4 separate regions of the Homo sapiens genome follow, and regions 1, 2 and 4 are each linked to region 3. Evidence: fine-mapped expression QTL. A gene starts in region 3. Each other region holds a variant in brackets. All regions are shown on one strand. Distances are from middle to middle.

The links.
Region 1: its variant is fine-mapped to the expression of ZFPM1 in whole blood (TOPMed, PIP above 0.99). The same link has a PIP of 0.9 or more in blood mononuclear cells.
Region 2: its variant is fine-mapped to the expression of ZFPM1 in whole blood (TOPMed, PIP above 0.99).
Region 4: its variant is fine-mapped to the expression of ZFPM1 in whole blood (TOPMed, PIP above 0.99).

Annotation. Positions count from the first base shown.
Region 1 is chr16:88,546,844-88,551,989 of GRCh38, reverse strand. No RefSeq gene overlaps it. Among named protein-coding and RNA genes, the nearest start is that of ZC3H18-DT, 13 kb to the left of the region's middle. The variant C/T (reference allele first, on the strand shown) is at 2,245.
Region 2 is chr16:88,534,568-88,539,682 of GRCh38, reverse strand. ZFPM1 (zinc finger protein, FOG family member 1) reads right to left here. Exons shown (of 10, transcript NM_153813.3): 10 at 2,652-5,115. The coding sequence ends at 4,704. Among named protein-coding and RNA genes, the nearest start is that of ZFPM1-AS1, 6.1 kb to the right of the region's middle. RefSeq lists a silencer at 5,036-5,115. The variant C/T (reference allele first, on the strand shown) is at 2,755.
Region 3 is chr16:88,450,420-88,455,565 of GRCh38, reverse strand. ZFPM1 (zinc finger protein, FOG family member 1) reads right to left here and starts at 2,286. Exons shown (of 10, transcript NM_153813.3): 1 at 1,888-2,286. The coding sequence starts at 1,927. RefSeq lists silencers at 1-341, 1,282-1,351, 1,572-1,701, 2,162-2,251, 2,262-2,561.
Region 4 is chr16:88,498,545-88,503,690 of GRCh38, reverse strand. The region is part of intron 3 of ZFPM1 (zinc finger protein, FOG family member 1); the gene reads right to left. Among named protein-coding and RNA genes, the nearest start is that of ZFPM1-AS1, 30 kb to the left of the region's middle. The variant G/A (reference allele first, on the strand shown) is at 2,766.

The DNA.
Region 1 (5,146 bases), 96 kb before region 3:
AAAAAAAATCAGGCCTGGTGTGGTGGCTCATGCCTATAATCCCAGCAATTTGGGAGGCTAAGGCAGGTGGATTGCTTGAGGTTAGAAGTCCAAGACCAGCCTGACCAACATAGTGAAAACACATCTCTACTAAAACAAAAACAAAAACAAAAATTACCCACGTATGGTGGTGCACGCCTGTAATCCCAGCTACTCAGGAGGCTGAGGCAGGAGAATCGCTTGAACCCAGGAGGCGGAAGTTGCAGTTAGCCGAGATTGCACCACTGCACTCCAGCCTGGGCGACAGAGCAATTAGCCGGGTGTGGTGGTGCACACCTGTAGTCCCAAGTACTCGGGAGGCTGAGGCGGGAGGATGACTTGGGCCCAGGAATTTGAGGTGGTAGTGAGCTGAGATCACACCACTGCACTCCACCCTCACTCCAGGGTGACAGGGTGAGGCCCTGTCTCAAAAAGTAAATAAATAAGTAAATGAAAAATAAAAATGTGACAAGACCAGGTGCTCATTGATGAGTGAATGGAAAAACGAAATGGGGTCCATCTGTGCCTGGAAAATTCTTCAGCCATAAAAAGGAGTGGAACGCTGACACAGGCTACATTGGGACGAACCTTGAGACCCTTCTGCAGAGTGAAAGATGCCGGTCACGAGAGGCTACATGCGTGTGCCTCTGTGTCTCCAGAATGCACACAACAGGCAAAGCCACAGCAGGGGTAAGGACTGGGGGTGTCTGGGCTGGGGAGGGGGAGAGGCAGGCGGCTGCTAATGGGGTGGGTTTTTTTTTGTTGTTGTTTTTTGTTTTTTGAGACGGAGTCTCGCTCTGTTGCCTAAGCTGGAGTGCAGTGGCGTGATCTCAGCTCACGGCAACCTCCACCTCCTGGGTCCAAGCAATTCTCCTGCCTCAGCCTCCCAAGTAGCTGGGATTATAGGCCCACACCACCACACCCAGCTAATTTTTGTATTTTTAGTAGAGACGGGGTTTCACCCTGTTGGCCAGGCTGGTCTTGAACTCCTGACCTCAGGTGATCCACCTGCCTCGGCCTCCCAAAGTGCTGGGGTTACAGGCCTGAGCCACCTCGCCTGGCCTGAATTCGCATTTTAAAAGAGTCTTGGCCAGGCACGGTGGCTCACGCCTGTAATCCCATCTACTTGGGAGGCTGAGGCATGAGAATTACTTGAACCTGGGAGGTGGAGATTGCAATGAGCCCAGATCACACCACTGCACTCCAACCTGGGCAACAGAGACTCTTAAATAAATACATAAAGTCTCATTTGCATAATTTCATGTAATGATGAGCAGAGCCCTCTGAAGGTCATTATCCGGGCAGCCTCTCATCTGAGCTGGGCTCGGAGCCTGGACTGTCCTCTCCCGGGAGCCCCTTAGGCTCCGTGTTTTCATGGGCCAAGGTTGCTGTCAGACTGCCTGAGTCCCCAGGGCTCTGAGTCCGGCAGATGGTGTCCACGCCCATTTCCTCTTCTTTCCGCCAGCCTCACTGTAGCCTGGCCTTGCTACCTGGCCACTTCCTCCGGGCCATGCCGCTCCGGAAAGGAGCCCAAGGGCAGCCTTCTGTGTGGGGGCCACTGCGCCATCCGTGGGCCATGTGGGCTGCTCCAGAGGGCAAGGTCCCCGGCCTCCCTGGGTCAATCAGAGCTGGCTGTGCTTTGTCTGTTTGGTGGTAGAGCTGCGCCGTGCTGGGGACGGGGGTGCACACAGGAGGAGGCTCCTTCGGTTGGAGCAGAGTTGGGGTTGGGGTGGGGGCCACCCTCTCCCCTGGCCTGGCGTGGAAGGAGAGAACAGGCATGATGTGTGTCTTCTGGAAGATGGCAATGGGCACGGAGCAGAAGAAGACCAAAGGCCCGCCTGCAGCTCCCGTGTTTTGGTAGGGGCATTGCGCGTGTTCAGGAAGTGTGAGGTTCCTGTCTTCTCTGACAGCAAGGGCTCGGATCAGGAGCCAGGGGTAGGAGCGCAGACCTCAGGGGGAGATAACCAACCTTCACTCCCTCTGTGTTCTCTGGGCCTGTTCCCAGGTCAGAGGGCTGTGCTGGGGAGGTACCACACAGTTGGACTCAGCTACAGCTAAGTTTTGATTGAAGGCTCCTCCCAGGCACTCACCCTCTTAACCCTCTCAAGTGAGCCCCCGCTGGGTGCCTGAGCTGCAGGAACCTGCAAAACACCTTTGTCCCTCCCAGGCTTCAGACTGACTTCAGAGTTTCTTTTCTTTTTTTCTTTTTTTTTTGAGATGGAGTTT[C/T]GCTCTGTCCCCAGGCTGGAGTGCAGTGGCGTGATCTCGGTTCACTGCAACCTCTGCCTCCCAGGTTTAAGTGATTCTTCTGCCTCAGCTTCCCGTGTAGCTGGTATTATGGGTGCGCATCACCACACCCGGCTAATTTTTGTATTTTTAGTAGAGACAGGGCTTCACCATGTTGGCCAGCATGGTCTTGATCTCTTGACCTTGTGATCCACCTGCCTCGGCCTCCCAAAGTGTTGGGATTACAGGCATGAACCACCATGCCCGGCCTCTTGTTGCTATTTAGAGGAGAACAAATGACTTACAATCTAACGCAGATCAGAAGTGACTGCCAGTGTTTCTGACTGAGACTTAGATAACGAGTCACTCTGATGTTTGCACAGCAGTTTGAAGCAACACGATGTCTCCTTTTGTGAAATTAACTCTGAAATGGCCCCACGTTTAAAGAAGTGACTTTATTCTGCTTTGATATTTCAGCTCATTTTGAAACCCAAGCTTGGTCTCCTCTCTTTGCCGTGTGAATTGTCTATGGATTCCGGCTGAAAGCGGCGGACCCTGGCTGGTGGGTGCAGGTGCAGTACAGTTAGAGCTGGAGGCAGTCCTGCCTCGTGCAGCCACTGCCGGCGCTCGGGATGTAACCACTTGGACCCTCTGTTTCGTCTTCAGTAAAACAAAGCCAGCACCAAAAGGGTTAAGATTGGAACAGACTTTCCTCAACTCTGATCCATGGACCTGTGCGTTGGTGCCAATGTCTTCATCGATGTACAGTGAAACGAGGAAAAGGAGCGCCAAGTGGAATAAATCATTCATGTGGGCCGGGCGCGGTGGCTCACGCCTGTAATCCCAGCACTTCGGGAGGCCAAGGCAGGTGGATCGCTTGAGCCCAGGAGTTTGAGAGCAGCTTGGGCAACATAGGGAGAACTCGTCTCTATTAAAAAAAATAATACTTTCGTGTAAAAGGCTTTTTGTGCAGAGATTGTGCTATCCTACTGTATTTGGTGCTAAAAGGTGCTTTTATGAGATATTGAGACTATTGAGCAATAGTTAAAAAAATTAATGTCAGTATCTGGAAAAAACATAAGGTTAGAGTCCTATGCTAACCCGGAAGTGATTGTCGACAGTTTTCTGGTTTGTGATTTTTCCAAAGTCTGGGGACCCCTGTTCGGGGTGGCGCTGCCTCACTGGTGCCTTCAGGTGAACCCTGGCTGGGGGAAGAGTCCCCGGGAGGGAGCTGGGCCCAGCTATTCAGCCCAGCCAGAGCAGAGAAGGCAGTCGGTCAACATGCAGGCCCTGCCCCGGGCTTTGGTGCCAGATAAAGGGATGTCCCAGGAGTTCCTCTGAGACCCTGGAGCCTGTGGCTGGTGCGTGTGGGAGGAAGGGAGGTGTGAGCCAGGCGCCCAGACCACAGGGCTGGTGGGTGGGGCAGGAAGAGGGCCAGTGCCCCACATGAACCTGCCAGGGCTGTGGGCCTGGAAGCCCCTTCCCCCGGGAGGGTGACAGGGTCATTGACGGTGACCACCTGGCTGGTGCTGACGTGGAGGGTGGGGATTGGAGCCACTGGGGTGGGACCCTCTGGCCATCCACTGGGAACCCCACCTTACAGGGGAAAGGGCAGTGGCGGTCAGGCTGCTGTCAATCCCTACTGTAGTGTGTGGGTGGGGGCTCCGTGCCCTGGAGACCCCCGATCATCTTTCTGGCCACAGGATGTCCTGCCTGTTCTATGCCTCCTGGGTGTGGGGGGAACCAAGGGTCCAGGAGGGGAACTGTGCAGTCTCATGGATCAAAAGGGCCAAGGTGGGGTGAGGCCAGGGTGTCTGCAGCCCAAGCACATACCCATGAGTTTCACACTTGGATGGTTGTCACCCTCTGTTCCCTCACCTTCCCCACCCTCTGTCCCCTCACCTTCCCCACCCTCTGTCCCGTCGCCTTCCCCACCCTCTGTCCCGTCGCCTTCCCCACCCTCTGTCCCCTCGCCTTCCCCACCCTCTGTCCCCTCGCCTTCCCCACCCTCTGTCCCCTCGCCTTCCCCACCCTCTGTCCCCTCGCCTTCCCCACCCTCTGTCCCCTCGCCTTCCCCACCCTCTGTCCCCTCGCCTTCCCCACCCTCTGTCCCCTCGCCTTCCCCACCCTCTGTCCGGTCACCTTCCCCACCCTCTGTCCCCTCGCCTTCCCCACCCTCTGTCCCGTCACCTTCCCCACCCTCTGTCCAGTCACCTTCCCCACCCTCTGTCCCCGCACCTTCCCCACCCTCTGTCTCCTCACCTTCCCCACCCTCTGTCCCCGCACCTTCCCCACCCTCTGTCCCCGCACCTTCCCCACCCTCTGTCCGGTCACCTTCCCCACCCTCTGTCCCCTCGCCTTCCCCACCCTCTGTCCCCTCGCCTTCCCCACCCTCTGTCCCCTCGCCTTCCCCACCCTCTCCTCGCCTTCCCCACCCTCTGTCCCCTCGCCTTCCCCACCCTCTGTCCCCTCGCCTTCCCCACCCTCTGTCCCCTCGCCTTCCCCACCCTCTGTCCCCTCGCCTTCCCCACCCTCTGTCCCCTCGCCTTCCCCACCCTCTGTCCCCTCGCCTTCCCCACCCTCTGTCCCCTCGCCTTCCCCACCCTCTGTCCCCTCGCCTTCCCCACCCTCTGTCCCCTCGCCTTCCCCACCCTCTGTCCCCTCACCTTCTCCACCCTCTGTCCCCTCACCTTCTCCACCCTCTGTCCCCTCACCTTCCCCACCCTCTGTCCCCTCACCTTCTCCACCCTCTGTCCCCTCACCTTCCCCACCCTCTGTCCCCTCACCTTCTCCACCCTCTGTCCCCTCACCTTCTCCACCCTCTGTCCCCTCACCTTCCCCACCCTCTGTCCCCTCGCCTTCTCCACCCTCTCTTCCCTCACCTTGTCCACCCTCTGTTTTCTCA
Region 2 (5,115 bases), 84 kb before region 3:
TAGGCCTGAGCTTTCTGTAAGCCAGGGCGTGGCTGGGAGCCAGTGCCCAGCAGTACGGCTGGTGGTCGAGAACCGAGTGCTGGAAGCCAGCAGAGGGATGTGTCCTGGCCCAGCTGTGCCCGCCAGGTGCCTGGGCAGGAGGTGTGTCCCGATGGAACCTTGGGGCCCTCGTGCACAGTCAGGGCACTCAGCCCATGGTGTGGCTGAGAGGACAGACCCTGTGCCTGGCAGAGGAAGGGGCCTCAGGAGGGCGAGGCTGCCCTGCATCATCTCGTGGACGTTGTGTCCCAAGTAGCGTGAGGGACTCCCGGCAGGCTGGGCTGACCCTGCCTGGGAGTTGCCAGCCTGCAAGGGGCTTTGAGCTGTATGCAGCTCAGGTAGAAGGGAGCAGGTGCCCTCCTGGAAGAAGGAGGGTGGAGGCGGGAGGCCCATCCTGTGCAGGGCAGGGGACGGGTACAGCCTGGCTGGGTGGCCCTGAGGGGGACCTTTTAAGCCAGTCTTGAGGAGAGAAGGAGTTTCACAGGCAAAGCTGGGGGGAGTGGGGAGGGGGGAGGAGTGGGGAGAGAGCAGCTTGGAATGCAGCGGTCCGAGATCCAAGAAGCTCAGGTCACACATGGGACTCAGTGGACAGTGTGATTGGAGAGTGGGCTGTGACGGTGGCCGTGTGCCATGAGTGGACAGTGTGGCTGGAAAGTGGGCTGTGACAGTTGGACTGACTGCTGGGCATGGGGAGGGGCTGGCTGTGGTCCACACACACCCCTGTGACTTCAACAGATGCAGACCCCTCCTCTGTGTCGGCCACTTGTGGGTGCCTGGGAGGCAGAGGTCAAGCAGGCGCAGCCCCAGCTTTCAAAGGAGACAGGCCAGTAGGCGACGGGCAAGAGGACAGAGATGCAGAGTGACCGTTCCTACGTGGGAGTGAGCTGGGGACAGAGGTGCAGAGTGACCATTCCTACACGGGAGCGAGCTGGGGACAGAGGTGCAGAGTGACCGTTCCTACGCGGGAAGTGAGCCAGGGACAGGTCTGAGGGGGCACCTAAGCTGAGAGCTGGATGACAAGGACAGCCTCGGAGGAGTAGAGAGGGCATCAGGAGGCACTGCCTGGAGCAACCAGCTGCAGCATGGAGCCCAGCGGGTGGTGGGCTTAGCAGGGCCAGGGGCTGCCGTCGGGACAGGCCGCCAACGGGAGGCTCCTCTCCTCTGTGCTGAGGCAGAGAAGGGGGACTTCTGACCTCTGAAGGATGGGGCCAGTAACAGAAGGGGTTTTACGCGAAGCACAGGCACCTGGGGGCGGGGACGGGCCTCAGAGCAGGGTGAGCCTGGGAGAGGGGAGCGGTGGCAGCTGTGTGAGGAGTGGACCCTCGAGATTTGGAAGCGGCTGTTCAGAGAGACTCAAGGGTGAAGTCCCAGGTCTGGGAGTCGGCGATGGTGGATGGGTTTGGGAAGCGGTGGGATTTGGACAAATCAAGCATTGCTTTGACAATGAAGGGTGAATAGGCAAGGCTGATGCTCTCCAGCTTGAGGGGCAGGGGGCCACTGAGGATGCCTATGCAGGTGAGGGGAGGAGACAGGTGGGCTGGTGGGGAGACAGGTGGGCTCGGGGTGATGCCTGTGCAGGTGAGGGGAGGAGACAGTGAGCCAGGGGGGTGCTTGCACTGGTGTGGGGAGACAGGTGGGCTTGGGGGAGGGGAACACCTGCACAGGTGTGGGCAGAAGTTACAGGTGCGTGGGGTTACAGTCACTCATGGTACATCAAGGGCCTGGAAGGACACAGGGGCTGTAGGTCTGCAGGTCTGGGGCTCAGGGGAGGCGTGGCTAGACTACAGAATTAGTGGAGAGAAGACCATGAGCCCACCCCAGGAGTGTGGAGGGAGAACTTCAAGGGGAGACCAGGGCAGACTCAGAGCCTTGAACCTGGCTCAGCAGAGAACCAGCTGGGGGGCCGAGGGGGTGTCTGTGAGCAGGGCAGGCAGCTTCCTGGGGAGAGGCGGGAGAAGGCCTGGGCCACCACCGAGTCAGCGGCTACAGGGGAGGCACAGGGTGGAGGCCCAGGCGGTGGTCTGGTGGGGGGAGACTGGGGTGATGGCTTGAGGGAGTAGGGGTGACTGATGGCGTCTGCCAGGTGTGGGGGCCCCAGGGTCTGTGCAGAAGACGCGTGCCCGAGGCGAGTCCTGGGTGCGATGGGGACGGGCTCTGGCCACACGCCAATGACCTGGGACGGGCGATGGCAGCGGTACCCAGCCCTGCATGGTGGGGACAGTAGGGGGTTATGCAAGCCAGGACAGGCGCAGGGCCCTTCGTGAGGCTCAGTGTGCTGCCCTAAGCTTCGAGTCCGGGCCGTGGCGGGGCCCTCTGGGGTGACTTCAGGTCTGGGTCCCGGTCACAGGGTCCTTGCTGCCTCTGAGATGAGCCCCCAGGAAGGGTTGCCAGGCCCGAACTCCCACTCCTGCGGCACAGGTGTGGACACTGAGGCACGTCTGGGTGCATGGCGGGTTTGTGCGGCACTGCTGGGCTGTCTTCCAGATTCTCCTCTGCGTCTTGCATTCCAGGGCCTCGCTTGGTCAGGTTTGGGGTGGGGCTCAAAGGGGGTGAGGACACTGGAGTTGTGTTTTTTACCCCCTTTGAGCACCTGTCACTCACCAGAGACTGTATTCGTAGTTTCTAGACACCTTTAAACAGTTTACTTTTAAATGTACACACAGTGACAACCCCCCACCAGGTTTCTATTTTTTAGAACATCTTGTACCCTGCGCC[C/T]GCACCTGGGGAGGACTTGGGGGCAGAGCCTCCTGAACCCTCCACGCAAATTCATGCACAACAATGCAAATGATGAGCAGACTTGAGGGGTCCGTGCCTCCCGTCCCCGCTATCACCTGGTCTTCAACAGAAGGGGTGTCTGTGAGGAAAAGGCTGCTTGCCTTCCCTGGAGCTCAGGTCCCTGGGAGGGGGTGGAAGCCATGTCTGTCCATTGGCCTTGGCTACGGGCCCCATCTGGCCAGACCCTAGTGGGCAGGTGGACAAAGACATCAGAGACCACTGAAAGCGCTGCAGACCCAGGCCCACGAGCTGCGGGCAGGAGAGCGAGCCCTGGACTGGCTGGGAAGTGCCTCGGGCTTCTGAGGCAAGAGGCCGCTGCCTTCTTTGCCTGCACTCACCAGGGCTGCTGGGCAAAGCTGAAAAAAATGCAGCTAGTTCAAGTAGAGTTGGAAATGGGCTGGGAATGGTAGCTCGCGCCTGTCATCCTAATGTTCTGGGAGGCTGAGGCTGCAGGAGCACTGGAGGTCAGGAGTTTGAGACCATCTTGGGCAACACAGGAAGACCCTGTCTCTATAAAAATGTTTTAAAAGTTAGCCAGGTGTGGTGGGTCAAGCCTGTAGTCCCAGCTACTTGGGAGGCTGAGGCAGGAAGATGGTTTCAGCTCAGGAGTTTGAGGCTGCAGTGACTTATGATCGTGCCACTGAACTTCAGCCTGGGGAACCGAACAAGACCTTAGCTCTAAAAAATATAGGGTTGCCCAGCCTGGGCAACATAGGGAGACACCATTTCTACAAAAAACACAAAAACTAGCTGGGCATGGTGGTGTACACCTGTAGCCCCAGCTACTGAGGAAACTGAGGTGGGAAGATCACTTGAGCTCACGAGGTCAAGGCTGCAATGAGCCGTGAGTATCCCAGGGACTCCAGCCTGGGCAAGAGAGTGAGACCCAAAAATAAAAAAATAAAGTGACGTTGGGAATAGAAGAGTGTTTTTGTTCTCCAGTGAGAAAGCACGCTGGAGGCTGCCCACAGCCACCCAGCTGCAAACGGCACGGTGACACCGTGGCTGAACGCGGTCAGCCAAGTACTCCCTCAGTGTGGCCGGCCCATACAGCCCAGCAGGGCAGGGAAGACGGGGGGTGGGGGTGCCCTGACCCTTGCACCGACTCAGCCACCACAGGTGACTCCACCACACGGTTGTCCTCAGCCCTGGCTCTGAGGGAGAGATGCACCCACCAGTGAGCATCAGGACCCCCTCGAGGCCAGGGAATGCTTCGGCCTCGGTCTCCCTCTCCTGTCCACCTACTCGCCTGTTCTTCCCCCAGCCTTGGCCACCACAGGGCTTCATCCTCCCCAGGGCGCCCCCACCCCTGCCATCCCTGGTGGTCTGTGACTGGATGGGGGACATCGGACCCCCAGGACCATGCAGGGTTGGGGGATGGCCAGCCAGGTCAGTGCCCCTCTCTTCCGTGTCTGGCGGCCAAGTAGACCGTGGAGAGGGTCAGCAGTGTGGAGGCTGCTCTCCCTAGGGGGGTATGGACAGGGCTGGGGTGGGGTAGGCCCAGAGCGGCTGGCCCTGCAGTGGTTCAGTGTGTGCTGTGGCCTCCGACCTGACGCTCGGTCTAGCTCTTAGCACCCAGTGGTGTAACTCCGGCAGGGGCCCAGCCACTCCGGGCCGCAGTGGCCTGTGTACACAGCAGGGCTGGATGTGACACTGGCTGCGTGTGCCTGCTGGCTCAGAGAACTAGGCTGGCCCACCACCATGCTCATCAAACTGAACTTCTTTATTAAGTGCCAAGGGTCCAGGCGGGCGCTGCCCCCTGCGGCCCCCTCCGCCGAGGCCTGTGCGTGGCGGGGTTCCCAGGAGCGGCAGTCCGTGCGGCCTGGGGGCGGCCCCCTCCCCGCATCGCAGCGGGGCGTGCAAAGCGTCTGCGGCTGTAGTGTGGGCGCTCACTTCACGTGCTCGGCGGCGTGCGAGGAGCAGTAATACTTCTTGTGGGCGATGAAGGTGGACAGGCTGCTGAACTTGATGTTGCAAAGACGGCAGTACCGGTGGTTGCCGTTGGGCAGCGGCGCCGGCGTGCCCTTGCTGGGAGTCTGGACGCCCTTGTCCGAGTAGGAGGGGGGCGCCGGCGGGGGCGGCACGGCCTCGGGCGCGGCGGCCGGGGACGGGGGCGGGCCGGGCGGCGGCTCCTGGGGCTCCGGGCCGAGGCCGTCCCGGGGGCCACGGGACCCGGGCTGCGGGGAGGCGGCGGGGGCGGGAGCGGGCGAGGGGCCGCGGTCGGCCGGCGTCCGGGCCTCGACCCCCGGGCCGGCCAGGGGCGCGCCGAGCAGCAGGCCGTGCGCCAGGCGGAAATGCTCC
Region 3 (5,146 bases):
CCAGGGCAGCGGGCAGGCACAGGCGCTGGCAAGAGGGCGGGCGGGCGGGCGCCGCCGCTTGGTGACAATCAGCCTTCGCATCTTAACGTGCTGAGATCTGCCATGGGGAGGAGGCGCCCCGGGCCGCGAGCGACAGGGAGGGTCCGCGGCCCTGCCTTCCTCGTCCGGGCCCTTTCTCTGCCCCGGTCCCGGGCCGCAACGAGGATGGGCCGCGGTGGCTCACCGTGCACCCGCCGCGGTCCCAGTTCCCAAAGTGCGCGCGCTCTGCCCGCCCCGCTGGGCTGGGCTACGGGCTCTCGCTGGCGCTGGCGGCCTTATCAGCGCTGGAGATCGGTTTCCAACCTGCGATCTCCCTGTCCGAGCTATCTGCATTTCTCATCACAGTGAAACACCACACACACACACACACACACACACACACACACACACACACCCCAGAACCGAACATAGGCGCTCAGGGAAGGAAGGAAAAAGAAACCAGAGCACAAGCGCGGATCGGGACCTGTGGGTGGCTTTTAATACTTGAGTTGACACGATAGAAGGCGACTTTCGGAAAACAGGTCCCGTTTGCGCTGAGGGAGTTGGGTTACGGGAACCGGTTCATGCCTGTGACCCCCGCCTCGGGAGACCTCCTGAGTAGGGAAGCTCCCACAGGCCCCGCACAAGGGGTCCTGGTGGCAGTGGTCGTGTGGACAAAGGAGGTAGTGCCCGGGCGCCTACGGCTGGGCAGCGGGCGGGTTTCCGTCGTGGCCTCCTGGCAGGGCTCAGACGACCTGCCCGTCAGGCTCCGGGGAGGCGCCCCGGGGAGGAAGACCTGCGTCTGGGCCCTAACTGTGAGGCGCAAAGTTATTATTGGCATAGGGTGGGGAGGGTAGCTTCCTGTGCTCTTGCTCCCTCCTGGCACAGCCCAGAGGCCCAGGCCAGACAGTGGCCCCGACAGCTTAGTTCTCATCGCGGGGGCACTGGCAATGTGGCGGCGGGGCAGCAGCCTCTGACCGGGCAGGGAGCCGGACCAGCGAGAAACTTAGTGGCGTGCAGGGGCGACCCCGGCCCGGGGCTGCGTCCTGGGAGGCCCTTCTCTGACTCAGAGCAGCCCATTGGGATGCCAGGGGGTGCCCGCGGGCATCCGAGGGCACCATTTGTTGCCCATGCCGCCTTGGCTGGGACACTTGCAGGGTCCAGGAGGTGTCACCAGGCTGGCGGGGCCTGGGTTCAGGACTTCAGCGCTAGGGCACGGGGTGGGGGTGTCTGGGGGGCTGGAGCCAAGTGCCTAGGCTGCGGCAGCTGCGCGCTACCCCCTCCCCTGTCCTGCGGCTCTGCGACGGCACCGGTGGGGGTGGGCGCGGGCCGGTGCCTGCCACTTGGCCAGGCATCTCCGCGGCCCCGGGTGTCCCCTCTGCCTCCCAGGTCTCTCTCTTCGCTTCTAGATACAAAGCCTGGGAGAGTCAACCGCGCGAGATAAGATCACAATTTCAGCCCGTCCCGACAGAACGATCTTATCAGGACGGGACTTGCAGAATGTAATATTTTAAACTTTATCTGAGCCCAGATCGGGGCCGCCCTATCGCCGCACCATCTCGCAGATGCGGGGGAGGGGCAGGCCGCGAGGGGCCGAGCTGCCCGGGCCGCGCCCCCAAACACCCTCCTCCCGGCCTCCGGGCGGCCCCCTCCTGGGCTGAACCCCCCGGTGCCCAAGCCGAGACGCGGGGGCCCAGGCCGCCGGCGGAGATTAGATTACGGCGCGCTTGGCACAGCGCGGGGGGCGCGGCGCGGGGTGAAGGTCGCCGGCGCCCAGGGCAGAGCGGGGACGGGCGGGGGCGGCGCTGGCGGCTGGGCTCCGGCGGGGGTCGGGCGCGCGGAGGGGACCGCGGGCAAAGTTTGACTCACGCTTGATCTGCCGGGGGTTGCTCTGTTTCCGCCTGGACATGTCTCCGGCGCCGCGCGCCCTCCCGGCGGCCGCCTCTAGCCCCGGGCGGGCGGCGGCGGGCGGCGGGGGCGCGGCGGGGCCGCGGGGCCGCTCATGCCCCCGGCCCCCGGTCTCCGCGGCCGCCCCGGCCCGCGCCCCCAGCCCGCGCGCCCAGCCCCGGAGCCGCTGGAGCTGCCGCGGAGGCCCGAGAGGCCACGGTCCTGCGTTGCGGGCGCGCGGACTGCCCGACGGGCGGGTGCCGGCTCCTCCGCTCCCGCGCACTCGCCGCCGCCGCCGCGGCCGCTCGGCTTTTCTCAATGGAACCCGCGGGCGGCGAGCGGCGGAGCAGGCGGCCACTGCGAGGGCGCTCCTGGCGGGCTGGAGGCACGGGGCGGGGCCGGGCCTGAGCGTCGTCGGCCGCCGCACCTCCCGCCCCGCCCCCGGCGCTCCGGCCCCGCCCCGTGCCTCCTGCCGGGCCCTGCACCTCTCCGGCTCCGCCCCCAGCGCCGCGGCCACGCCCCCGCCAGCCCGGCTCTTCGTTGCTCTGGCTCCGCCCCCAGAGCCGCGACCGCGCCCCCGCCCGCCTCGCTCTTTACGGCGCTGGCTCCGACCCCAGCGCTGCGGCCCCGCCCCTGTCCGTCTGGGCCTTCAAGGCACTGTCCCCGCCCCGCTCGATGCCCCGCCCCTTCCTGGTTCGGCCCCGCCCGCGCCCCGGGGAGACCTCTAGCCTCCCCCACTCCTCTTTGGCCCGGAGGTCATGTCCCCAGGCCGCGCTGGGAGTCTGAGACCTATTCGGTTCTGTTCTGCTGCCCCGCGGCACCGCATCCTGCGCCCCGCCTCTCGGCGCCAGCTCCGCCTCCAAACCTGACCCGACCTGGTTGGGTCCTGAGACGCCGAGGCTCCGCCCCCGCACTGTAACTCCGCCCCCAGCCCTTGGTCCCTCCCTAGACCCCTGGGCTCTGCCGCACGCTCCACGTGCGCGGTGGGGGCAGTGACAACCGGCTCAGGAAGCCCGAGGCCTTGACGCCCACGTTTCTCTTGGGCCAGACTTGGGGTGTGGAGCGGATTCGGGCCAGGGAGGGGGCTTCCGTCCCAGACTGCGGTGGGGTCCGCCAACTGAGAGCAGGATCTCGGGTCTTCCCCTGTGAGCTCAGACCAGGCTGGAAATCGAGGAGGGGGCGCGGGAGCCGGCAGCCCTGGGCGTTGCCACTTGGGGCCTCTTTCCTCACCGAGCCTCTCCAGGGCGCCCCGCAGGAGACCCACGAAGGAGTTGCCCACAGCGCCCGGGCCACAGCCCCCTCTCGGAGCAGTCAGAGGTCAGCGAGGTTTGTGGGCGCGGTGCTGTCAGCTCAGGCCTGGAAATGGAGAACTGTTGCCCTCTGGGGTGTGTTCAAGAGCCCCACTTCACGGAGGCTCGGGGACTTGCTCAAGGTCACGCATTGGGGGGCTGTCCCCCACTCCCAGCTGAGTTGTATCATCTCCTTTTAATGTTCTCGGTCTACACTTGCTACCTGCTCCCCCATCCCCCGTACTCATAAGAAACGGGCGTCAGTGGGCCCAGGGGCAGACAGGAAGGACCCCTCCCACCTGATGATGAGATCATCGCACAGCAGGACTGTCACACCACCCGCCAGCCTGCTGGGAGCTCCTAAGACCCCATCTCGTGCCAACTTCTGTGACCTATTCCCTGGCTCCAAGGAAGGGGAGAAGTGGGGGCTTACCCTCAGAGCCTGGTACAGGAGAGTGGCGGGTGGGTAGGAGAGGCAGGGGTACAACACTGGATATGCGCCGTCCCTCCCCACTGCCATGGACAGACAGGAACACTGAGACCAGGAGGCCAAGAGAGCTGCCCAGGGGCATACGGGTCCTCCAGCCCTTCCTGCTCTCTGCCAGGGTCCAGTGGGCACAGCCTTCCCACAGCTGCTCTCTGGAGGGGGTGGGGCCCATGTCTGATTGGTTCACTCAACCTAGGACCTCCCCCCCACCCTCCCGCCCCCACCCAGTGCTTGTCAACTGGATGGAGCACCTACCTGTCTGGGTTTCCCACCAGGCCTCGCCTCCTTCCCCAAAGAAGTCCACTTTAGAGTATGTGGACCTGTGAGTTAGGGGAGTTCCTGGAGGAGGTGGCCATGGGCTGGCACCTGGGCTGGGTCTGAAGCTCCACGCACAGCAAGTGGCACCCAGGCTGGCGCTGCTGGAACGGGCGGAGATCTGTGTTGAGGTGGATTCCGAGGGTCAACAGGAGACAGCCATGATCATCCATGATTGATGTCTGTCTAGGCTGCAGGAGGAGACGATGGGGATCATTTTGGCTGCTGCTTTGCCTGATCTGATTTATTTCTATGAGCCCATATATAGATGAAAACATGGAGGGACATGCCCAGGGAAGCCAGCGAAGGGGGCAGGCGGCAGGTCCAGACCACAGCCTGCTGCCCTGCCTCCATCACTTGCAAGGCCCCATGCAAAATGAAAATATGAAAATGTGGAGCCCCCTTGATCAAAACCCCCAAACCCCAAAACCCCAGGGCATCAAGGGCAGGATGTTGAGCCCGGTGTGGTGCCCTTCCCAGCTCGGGCCCTGTGCCCCTGCACCGGTCACAGGTCCCCTAACCCTGCCAGGGCTGCTTTTGTAGCACATTCCTTCTACACTCTGTCCCTCTACCTGCCCGGAGGAAGGCATTATTACAGATGAGAAAACCGCAGCCAAGAGGGGAGGCTGCCTGCTGATGTCGAGTGGTAAAGCTGCAGGACCTTGCACACACCATTAAACCCTCAGGGTGGTCATGACGATAACCATACACTGAGGAAGAGACACAAGGCATGCTGTCTAGAGGATGGTCTGGGGGAGCCCAGAGCAGGAGCGGCCATCTCTGCCTGGGGAAATCAGAGAAGGCTTTCTGGAGAAGGTGACATCCAAGTGGGGCTTTCCAGGAGTCCCTGATCAGGTGGGAGAGGAACAGGGCGTGGGGTTGCTGAGGCTGTCCAGGCTGAGCCCACCTAGGACCTCCACCCCCCACCTGCTGCCCATTGTGAACCCCAGTTTCCATCTGCCCCTGCATGTTCTCGAGGTGTGTTGAGATTCACATCCAAAGTCACTGGTGGGGAAGTTGGAATTGCATTCAGGAGCTGCACTGGGTTCTCCCCTGCTGGCTCCCAGGGAGAGCAGGGCCTGGAACACATAGGAAGTGCTGTCTGGCAGTGGCCTGGAGACTGCCTCCCCTCCAAAAACAACCTCAGCCC
Region 4 (5,146 bases), 48 kb before region 3:
CGTGTGATTTTATGGGAAGCCACAGAGGGTGCTGCCATGGCACCGATCACCCCAACACAGATGAGAAGACCGAGGTCAGAGAGGACCTGGCTCCACAGAGAGGCAGCTGGCTGTGAGTCAGATGCAGGCCAGGCAGAGGGTGGGAAAGACCAGGAAGCAGGAGGAGCCCTGGAGGCAGAACAGGCCGGCCCCTCCCCAGACACAGATCCCTCCACTCAGGAACCGTGGGCCCCCCAGACACAGATCCCTCCACTCCGGAACCGTGGGCCCCCCAGACACAGATCCCTGCACTCAGGAACCGTGGCCCCCCAGACACAGATCCCTCCACTCAGGAACCGTGGGCCCCCCAGACACAGATCCCTCCACTCAGGAACCGTGGGCCCCTCCCCAGACACAGATCCCTCCACTCAGGAACCGTGGGCCCCCCAGACACAGATCCCTCCACTCAGGAACCGTGGGCCCCTCCCCAGACACAGATCCCTCCACTCAGGAACCGTGGCCCCCCAGACACAGCTCCCTCCCCTGTGCCGCTGCTCAGGACCCACGGGGGTCCCCACTGGCCCCTGAATCAAGCACTGTGCTACAGTGGGGGTTCCTGTCCCAGGGGCGCCGTGCTCATCCACCCACCCTGCCCCGCGGAGCAGCGCCCCTGCCACCTCCCACCTGCCGAAGAGACCGCACACAGCCTTCCAGCCCTGAGGGGCCTTCATGGCTGGTGGGGTTGGAGGAACGACAGCTAAAGGCGGGTGGGGGTGGCGAGCGCTCTGAGGGCAGCCCCGGATCTGCCGTCCGGCCACCGTGTGTGCAGAGACCCACAAACGGGCATCCACGTGGCCTCTGCTGCCCTTAGAACATCCTTCTCTGGAAGAAACGTGGCAAGACAGCAAAAATTTAAAAAAATAAATGGCTTGCCATCTTTGACATGCTGACCTGAGCCCGCCCATGCCGGGATGATTTTTCTGGGATAAATTCCCAGGAGCCAACTGCTGAGTCAAGGGAAGCAGCAGCTGCTGGCGCTGGGGCAGCCCGGACCGGGTGGCTCCGACCTGCGAGGTGGGGACCCTCGGCTAGGGGGGGTCACCAAGGCCACTGCCTCCAGCAGCACTGGACGGGAAGGGACAGTGGGGCTCTGGGAGGCTGGGGACAAGCCCAAGACCTACAGTGACTCCAGGGTGGATCCAGATGGGAACCTGGGGCCAAAGACCCTGTCCATGGCCCCGGGCGGCCCACAGGGCACAGGGACGGGGTTGGGGGACATGGAGGGGCAAGCACAGAGGCGTCAGGCCTATGGGGCAGAGGTGGGTCCTGAGTGCCCGGCGCCCGGGCCCCTGGGCAGGGCGGGAGAGGGCGGGGGGCCGGGGTGGGAGGCACCCTCACGAGACGCAATAAACCCGAGATAGCATCTTGCCGCATCTCAGGCCCTGCTCGGCCCTTTCGGGCAGGATATGACCAGCCCTCGAGCCGATGGCGGCCCCTTTGTCCCATCTCCGGGGACCGATCTTATCAGCTGCGTCCACGGCCGCTGTAATGGAAAAGCGCAGTGAGGAAATAAAAAGTTACACGCAGAGAAGGAGGAGAGATAAATAAATAAATAAATAAATAAATAAATAAATAAATAAATAAATGGGGGGGGGCGGGTGGAGCCGCGTCGGGGGTGGAGGAGCTACTAGGAGTGTTAAACCATGGGTTGGGGCGTTTGCAGGGCTGGGGTCAGGAGGTCAGGGCTCACCGGCCTGGTCTCCACCTCGGATGAACCACGTGAACTCACTGGGCCTCAGTTTGCTCATCGGCCCAGGAGCCCCCTCGCGGGCTGGGGTTGATCCCATGGCAAACAGCAGTGGCAGGAGGGCCCTGCACCCACGCCCACTACCTCCATCACCAGCACCAGCGGCAGGGCCCTGCACCCATGCCCGCTATCTCCATTATCATCAGCACCAGCGGGAGGGCCCGGCACCCACACCCGTTACCTCCATCATCAAGAGCACCTGCGGGAGAGGCCCTGCACCCACACCCGCTATCTCTATCATCACCAGCACCTGCGCGATGGCCCACGCACCCAGGCCCACTATCTCCATCATCACCAGTACCTGCGGGAGAGCCCATGCACCCACACCCGCTATCTCCATCATCACCAGCACCTGCGGGATGGCCCACGCACCCATGTCTGCTATCTCTATCATCACCAGCACCTGCGGGAGGGCCCACGCACCCATGTCTGCTATCTCTATCATCACCAGCACCTGCGGGATGGCCCCCGCATCCATGTCTGCTATCTCCATCATCACCAGCACCTGCGGGAGGGCCCCGCACCCATGTCTGCTATCTCCATCATCACCAGCACCTGCGGGAGGGCCCCGCACCCATGTCTGCTATCTCCATCATCACCAGCACCTGCGGGAGGGCCCCCGCACCCAGGCCCACTATCTCCATCATCACCAGTACCTGCGGGAGAGCCCATGCACCCACACCCGCTATCTCCATCATCACCAGCACCTGCGGGAGGGCCCCCGCACCCATGTCTGCTATCTCCATCATCACCAGCACCTGCGGGATGGCCCCCGCATCCATGTCTGCTATCTCCATCATCACCAGCACCTGCGGGAGGGCCCCCGCATCCATGACCGCTACCTCCATCACCAGCAGTGGTGTCTCAGTTTCCCTCCTGGGCAGGAGGAGGTGGAGAAGTCAGGCCAGTGTGGGGAGGGGCCAGCCTTAGAGACCCTGACATATCCCCAGCCAAGGCTGCACCCCCACAGGGAGGGCCC[G/A]CTGTACCTGTCGGTCAGGTGAGGACACCGAGGTGCCGTCTAGGGACCCAGCACTGTGCCCAGGACCTGGCTCAGCCCAGGGTGGCCAAGATCCGAGCTGACCACGCAGACTTGCTGGGAAAGAGAAACTGTGGGCCCTGCCCTGCCCCAGCAGCCCCAGGGAGCCTGAACTGTCCTGTCCACGTCTCACAGATGAGGACCCTGAGCCCAGAACAGGGCACAACAGGCCCCAGGTCTGCGGTGAGAGAGGTGACACCTGGAAGCTGAGTCTGCCGTTGTGCCAGCGGGAGGGTTGGTGCCAGTAACGGCAACAGCACTGCTGGCAGCAACAGTCCTAGCAAGGTGACAGAATGACCCAGAGTGACAGCGACAGCACCAGCAAGGTGACAGCGGCCAGGCCAGCAGCAGCACTCTCTAATAGCGCTGTTTCTGTGCTAGTGACAGTCACGGTGCCCACGCTGGTGGTGACACGGGTGTAGTGGTGGGAACAAGGGCAGCTGGGGCAGCAGCTGCCAGCGACACGCTTGTGGCTTGCCCAGCGCCTGCCCACTGTCCCAAGGGTCCTCCCAAGAGCGCCCTGTGGCCGTCTTCCTGACGAGGCCACCAGCTCATGGGGGGAGCTGGCTGTGTCCCCGGCCATGCGGCAGGCCCAGGAGGGGCAAGGAGGGAAGCTTCTGGGCAGTAGCCGGGGCTCCAGGGGCTCGCCCAGGTGACTCTGGTGGGCCTGCCCCCGAGATGTCTGGGAGGGGCCGGTAGGGCAACGGCGGGGCCTGGGTGGGGGCTGGTGGTGGGGGATGGCCGGGGCAGGAAGCCGGGTGGGAGGGCGGAGGAGGAAGCCAGCTTGATTAGCGCCTGCGGCCGAGATAGGCTGCCCTGGCCACAGATAGCCTCTCCCGGAAGGTGGTGAGGCCAGAGGGCAGCACGGCAGGCAGCCAGGCCCGGCCCCCGCCCCCCAACCACCAGGATGGCTGGAGACCCAGGGCTCCGGCTGCGCTCCTCATGGGGCATCCACTGTCCGCTCACCCTCTGCTGGCATGGGGCCGAGGAGGGGCCGGGGAGCCCACGGGACTTGGGGGCTGGACCCGGAGAGGCTGGATGGGTGGGCCTGGGCCCTTCCCTGGGAGGCAGGCCTGTGGGCTCTGTGCCCACTCGGCCCCTCCCCAGCATGGGGGTGGGGTGGCTACCTCACCTCTCCTGGCCTCAGTTTCCCATCTGTGAATGGGGACACTGCCCACTTCAGCCAAGCCCTTTCTCAGATCTCCCTCTGTCTGCCCCTGAGCCGTCCTCCACCCAGCCAGCGGGATTCAGGGGCCACCCAGGTGGGGTCCCCCACACTGCACGCAGACCTGCTCCGTGTCCAGCCTGCTAGGCACCAGGCTCCGCCCTGTCCACGTGCGCGGTCCTGCCTGCCCCCTGGCCCCTTCGCTGCTCCCAAAGTCAGCTGGGCCGGCCCCACCCCAGGCCTCTGTACCCGGCTTCCTCTGCCCTGGCCTGCGTCTCCCACCCGCTGCGCGGCCCCCACGACTGCTCTCTTCTCCTCCGCGGCTGCTCTGGAGGAGGTCTGTTTTCCTCACGCTGCATCCCCCTGTCTATCACAGGGCTGGCACATAGCTTGTGCTCAATAAATGGAAGTACAAGGGAGTGAGTGAGTGCCGGCTCTGCCTGCGATTTCGGGACTTCGAGGCCCAGGTGACTTTCCCGGGGTGGAGGCTGAAGTCAGGGCCAGGTTCAGGAGGCGGCTTCTGTATGGCCAGGGCTGGGGTGGGTGCGGGAGGTCAGCCAGGCCCCAGGGTGCCGGCAGCCTGGTCATGGGGGAGCCACGGGGGCCGTTGGGGAGCTGGGGATGAAGGAAGGGGAGCCGGCCTCGGGGGCTGCAGATGGCTCTGGCCCCAAGCTCAACCCTGTCCAGGGGCTCCGCCCACAGGGCCTTGCGTGGAGAGGCAGGCCTGGGGTCTGGTGGTGCAGGCAGGACCCGGGTGCAGCCCCCACCCAGGCCTGGGGCCAGTGCTTGGGAGAGGGGAGGGAAGGGTGTCATGGGAAGGCTCAGGGCCAGGGGCAGCCAAGGTGTCCACGCCAACGACCCAGGGTCAGGCCAGCCAGAGCCTGCGACCTCTGAACTCAGTTTCCAAGATAACCACCCTCTGCAGCCGCAGGCCCAATGTGATGGGGCCTCAGGCTCTGAGCTGACTGCTGCCTCACCCCTGCGATCACTCCAGATTAGAGGGGTGCCCCCGGCTCCGGGACTGCGCCCTCGGCCTGGGACACCGTTTCCAGACGCCCCTCGTTCATTTGGAACTCAAACGTCGGCTCAGCGAGGCCGGCTCTGCCTGCCCCTCGGACATGTGGGGTTCCTACCTCGTCATGATTTGGGGTGTCTCCCT